Regions from separate parts of the Homo sapiens genome. Here region 2 is linked to region 1. The links come from fine-mapping of genetic effects on gene expression. A gene starts in region 1. The other region holds a variant in brackets. All regions are shown on one strand. Distances are from middle to middle. Region 1 holds the start of PGGT1B (protein geranylgeranyltransferase type I subunit beta). Region 2 overlaps PGGT1B (protein geranylgeranyltransferase type I subunit beta).

Region 1 (2,917 bases):
TCCTTGAGCTGAGAATCAGATGAAACATTTGGCTTCCCTAACTTAAGGGCCATGTTTATTAGAATTAATTTTCTGAGAATGTATAGAGTGTCCATAGCTGATTCCAGTAAGTTAAATGTGTATAAGACTCCACTTTAAAAATCTTCAGGCATTTGGGGGTATGTGTGCTAAGTGAGAGATCTTAATTTTAATAACAGTGGAAACTCCAGACTGGGCACACCTGAAGGGCAAGGACTGTGAGCTCCGTATTTGTAGGGAAGTACCGAGGACAGCCTAGAATCCGTCTGTGGCTGTTAAATGCGGCATTTTGTAAAGACATGCAGGAATACCTGTGAATAAGTAGTTAATAGTACCAAAAATTATTCAGAGCACTTTGGATTGTTGAATAAGTGTAAGATTACCCCAGCCCATAGAGTATAAGAATTACATTTTCTAAGAAAGCTAACAAAATTAAACCCAAAATTTTATTAGCTAAGTTGATCACAGGGAACCTAGTTTAGTTATATTATTGGGTGGATCCCCCCACCCGCTACTCAGGAATGCCTCATGAAAGTTTAAAGGGCATAGTATACCGGCTAAACAACTTAAATCCCTATTTTTGGAAAAAAGAACTAGAAGCATGTTTAAATTTTTTAGAATGCAGGTAATTGGAGAAGATATTGAGCTTATTTTGCTGTTGCAGATTGATGCACCATTGATTCTTGATAACACGTCGACTCAAGCAAAGTAAAATCTGTAAGATTTGTAAAAGAATGACGCAAGCAGTCATATATAGGTATGAATATGCATGTTGTATATGTTTGGGGGCATTATACACAGATTTTTAAGTGATTCCTGGTATCCAGAAAGGATTAAGATTAGGAAAGTCTCTGAGCTTTTGTAGTGTCAATAAACATTTATCTCCACTGGTTTGTTTTTCTGTTTCCCTAACCGTTCGGCTTAAAACTGGCCCTCCAAAAATGAATCTGTTAGCAAGTTTATACTGATCCATCCTCGTTTTCAGATATACCATCCTCAGGTTCTACAGAGCCAGAATTGTCTCAAAGCGTACTTGATGCTTTTGACCTTGCGCTTCCCAAGATAAAAATTCTGACGGAGGGATTTGTGGACTTGATTTTCACAAGGCCTGCGAGGTGTTTACAAGCCTCGAGGGCTTTGAGTAGAAAAGGTAGGGTCATGCGCTAGCTAGGGAGATATCGGAGAGAGGAAGTGCTGCACAGGACCCAGATGATAGCGGTTTCAAATACTGGCTTAGTCTGCGGCGGGCGCAGGTCCCCTCACCCGGCACCCTGTGGTTCAGCACAGGAGGGTTCTTTCTCTCCGCGGGCACTGATTCCGGGTCGCGGCGGACGTCGCTTCCGGAGCAGCATGGCGGCCACTGAGGATGAGAGGCTAGCAGGGAGCGGTGAGGGAGAGCGGCTGGATTTCTTACGGGATCGGCACGTGCGATTTTTCCAGCGCTGCCTCCAGGTTTTGCCGGAGCGCTATTCTTCACTCGAGACAAGCAGGTAACTCGTGGCACAGTCAGCCAGGCTGGCACAAGGCCCGGGCTCCAGCGGAAAGGCGCGGCGGAGTCGGACCGCAAACTGGGCGCCGGAAGGGGGCTGCGCGGCCGCCCAGTTGGCACTGACTGGTTTCAAGTGGGCTTGAGGTTACCCCCACTCTCCCGCCGTACGGTGGGAAGGTCTGGAAGGCTGTAGGTCGAGGGCTGTGGCATCTCCAGTTTCCGGCTTTTTCACTTCCCTTTTCTTCTGGCAACTCTGAGCTGCTTTTTTACCCGCTCCCATAGCCTGTCACTTTGCCTCATTACTTCCGAGTGTAAAAGGAAAAGGACAAAGTTTGTCGTCGTATTTTTAGATGAATACTTCTGTGCATCCTTGTCCTCTCTAAAGTCATTAACTCTTAATAGAGTGTCTGTATGGTGTTTTATGTGTAGGAGCGGCAGAGAACCTCTAAGGTCTTAGAAACTTTGTGGGAACTATAAATCTAATGGTAGGCGAAAGAGGTGTGGTGTTGCGTGAAGCAGCCTGTTAAAAGTATCGCAATAGCTGAAGAGTGTGGTGCGGCAGAGACTAAGCGACTTCATTTACAGTAAAAGCTGGGGATGAGAAGAAAGAAAGGAGAAGGCAATCTTTGCTCCGCATTGCTGTGTTTTGAAGTGAAGCTCAAAAGCTGCTTGAGACTGGATGGGAGGAAAGAGCGGCTTGTTTTTGCTGTGTTCTTTCCCCACGTTTTCCAAATTCTGAGTTGCTGGTGTATTTTGAACACTGCATGACCGGATCAGTTTGGGGAGCTTTGCAGATTACTTCTGCACACTTGGTCAAGAACCACATTATGGTAGGTGCCAGAGTACAGCTGAACAAGACAAGCATTTGTATAGAGTTCTGTGCTATATGTTAGTGTAGTGTTCATAGGAGTATATAGACAGGCATGTACATAATCCAGATATCTTTAGAGAGGCCTTCCTTAAACACCCTTCCTAAAGGGACCACTTCCAATGACCACCTCACATTACGTATGTATTGGTTTATTTGTTTAATGTCTTTCTATTACACTGGATTATAAACTTCACAAAGGTAACATTTTCGTCTATCTTGTTTACCTCTATACTTAGGACTGGGCTGCCCTGTCCAATCTGGTAGCCACTAGCCACATTTGGCTATTTTGATTTGAATTAATTAAATCAAATTAAAAATTAAGTGATTCTTTTGGTAGTAGCCACCACATTTCAAGTACCCAGTTGCCATATTGGCCAGTGGCAATTGTTTCTATTTCAACATTTGCAACAGCTTAGTCCTTTTGGTCAACATTGCACTAGGACCTTAAATAGTACCTGGTATCTGAGAAGCACTAAGAAATATTTGTTGAATAATGTGAGCTGAGCCCTGAAGGATGAACAGATTCTCACAAAAGAAAG
Region 2 (2,917 bases), 51 kb after region 1:
CAGGCGCACGCCACCATACCTGGTAATTTTTGTATTTTTTGTAGAGATGGAGCTTCACCGTATTGCCCAGGCTGGTATCGAACTCCTGTGGCTCAAGGAATATGCCCTTCTCGGCCTCCCAAAGTGCTGGGATTACAGGTGTGAGCCACCACACCCAGCCTGTTTTGAACTTTAATAGCTCTTAAGGCCATAAATGTCGGCCAATTCAAAAATAGAAAAAAATTTTGACTGGTACAAAACTGTCTTTTTAATGTTCCTATAACTGCAAAGCTCTGAGCTCTTCAGAAGTCTACATAAGACTCCTAGGCAGGAATGGCCATGTGATTTCATTGGCCACTTTAATAGAAGAGGATCGCTGCCCCCTGAAAGATGGGAAACTAGTGAGCCAGTGCAGAATTGTCATGGTATGAGCACTCATATTATTTCAACCAAATAGAATGTGAGTTTGTTTTTATTGTCAGATCAGATATTTTTACAATGACTGACATTACCCTAAATAGGAGGATTAAATATGGCACAGCATTCCAGAATGGATTATTTTTGCATAAGCTCCTTTTATTTAACACAATGTTAGGATAGTACTGCATATGGTTTAGGAACTTTCAGAGGTAAAACGTGGAGCGAGGGATATTGCAACTTAGATTCAGAGTTTTGTTTTCGTTTTAAAGAAAAAAAAACTTAATGATATAGCATTGAAGCTACTCGTTTTCATGTTCTCTAGTAAGCAAGAGGGGAAACTCCCCAAAGTGAGAAGTCTTACATATGACTGCTGCTACTCCTGTCTTTTAATCACAGAGGTTATGGACAGTATCAGCTCTTCAGCTGGAAACTGTTTTCCTTTGTTAATGATATTTTCATGAATAAAATATTTTATTTTGATCATCTGAGTTTTTTTTTTAATTGGTGTTTGAGGCTTTGAGAAAGCAAATATTTTTAAAACTATATTAGCATTTCTCTAAACTTACTTTTAATGGAGTGATGGGCTGGTAAATATGTGGCTAAAATATTCTGTAGAATGTACAAGTAAGAATGCCTATTATGATGTTTTAAATGCCTTCTTTTCAGATGCTTTGCATGCATACTTTGGGATCTGTGGCCTGTCACTAATGGAGGAAAGTGGAATTTGTAAAGTTCATCCTGCTCTGAATGTAAGCACACGGACTTCTGAACGCCTTCTAGATCTCCATCAAAGCTGGAAAACCAAGGACTCTAAACAATGCTCAGAGAATGTACATATCTCCACATGACTGATTTTAGATTGGGAGGGTGGGGGG[A/GA]TTTGTAGCATAACTGTAGCTCAAGTTTAAAAGCCATGTATAACCAAGTGTGCTCTTTTTTTAAAAGGTAGAGTCTTACAATCAAATCTCCTGCTGATTTCACTTTGGGATATGGTCTTGAGCCAGTAATCTTTATACTGGGTTTCAAGAAAATCTTTGTTGAAGTTTGAACCACAACTTTGTCGTGGTTCTTAAATGTTTATACTGTATTTCTAAGAAGTTGTTTGAGGCAAATTAACTGTATGTGTGTAGGTTATCTTTTTAAAAACTCTTCAGTGCAAATTGTATCTTATTATAAAATGGACACAAATTTTCAAGTTTACACTTCATATAGCATTGATAATCTTCAGGTGAACACTTAGTGATCATTTAAAAAGCTCACTGCTGATCGTAGAAAATTTGCTTTAATTAATTAAGTATCTGGGATTATTCTTTGAAAACAGATGACCATAATTTTTTTTAAAGAAGAGTGACTTATTTTGTCTTATTCTTAAGTAAAGTGTGCCAATTAAACCTGTGTGGCCTATATAAATGAAGTTAATAACTTCATAGTAAGAATAAATAGGTTTAACTAATGTGATAGTTTTCTAAAAGGAGATTGTTTGAAGACAACTATTATGTAACTGAGGGAAAAGCAACTTAACTGTATGTGATTGTGAATGAGAAAGTTTTGTGCTATGTGGGTCATTTATCTAGACATTGCTGTGGTGAATACCAGTTATGTTTGATTTTATTCTCAAATCATTAGTTGCCTTTTTTTTTTTTTTTTTTTTTTTGCTTTCTAGGAAGAAAACAATCTTTTTTATCTAGAAGGAAAGATACTTTGTGTTTTCATTTTTAGCCATTTGAAGTTTTTAATTTATTGCCCCCAGTGTGTTAGCTGCTCTAATTTCAAACTAATACTTTTCTAATTTTTTTCAAATTAAATAAGTAAAAAATACAAAAACAGAACCATTCAAACAGATTCAGTGGTGTAACTCAATACATGGTCATTTTTATTCTCATATTTTCAGGTAAGTGAAAGGGAAATGCGACCATTTAGAGGGTAAGAAATAGGGTTTTGTTTTTGTTCATTGTTTTGTTTTAAGTCTATGAACTAGCTAATTATAAAGGAGGTAGTATAAAAACTCTTCATTAGTAATTAATTTATCAATAACTCATATCCGTTACTTGCTCAGTGACATTCAGAACTATTGCGTCTAGTACTGAAATGGGGAAAGAAATCTCTTCACTAAAGGAGTTGGCTTTAAGTTAGTCTTGGTGATAATAAATGTTGAAATACAAGTATCAGTATAAAAACTGGATTACTGGTATCACTGTTTAGGCATTGTAATACTTTAAATGTTATCTTTTTTTCTAAATCAGAGGGAAAAAAATGTTGTGAAATAACAGTCCTTCCCAAGGGAAACACTGTGTACTTGGAGAAATGATTGATTTATTATTGGCATGCTTAGTTTTAAACCTGAGTTTGCCAACTGTATGTTTTTTAATTAGAAATAAAATAAATCTTCTGATGGTGGGGGAAAAAGTAAGCTTAATAACAGATGTTATCCGTCTATGGGTTATTCCAGTTGCTACTATTTAAATCCTGGCAGATTAAGACATCCATATCTCAAACTAAGTCATCTCTTAGACATTGGAAG

The links.
Region 2: its variant is fine-mapped to the expression of PGGT1B in visceral fat (GTEx, PIP above 0.99). The same link has a PIP of 0.9 or more in coronary artery and transverse colon.

Annotation. Positions count from the first base shown.
Region 1 is chr5:115,261,303-115,264,219 of GRCh38, reverse strand. It overlaps PGGT1B (protein geranylgeranyltransferase type I subunit beta), which reads left to right and starts at 1,343. Exons shown (of 9, transcript NM_005023.4): 1 at 1,343-1,508. The coding sequence starts at 1,369. RefSeq lists enhancers at 1,225-1,274, 1,305-1,484.
Region 2 is chr5:115,210,732-115,213,648 of GRCh38, reverse strand. It overlaps PGGT1B (protein geranylgeranyltransferase type I subunit beta), which reads left to right. Exons shown (of 9, transcript NM_005023.4): 9 at 1,066-2,917. The coding sequence ends at 1,247. Among named protein-coding and RNA genes, the nearest start is that of TRIM36, 42 kb to the right of the region's middle. The variant A/GA (reference allele first, on the strand shown) is at 1,275.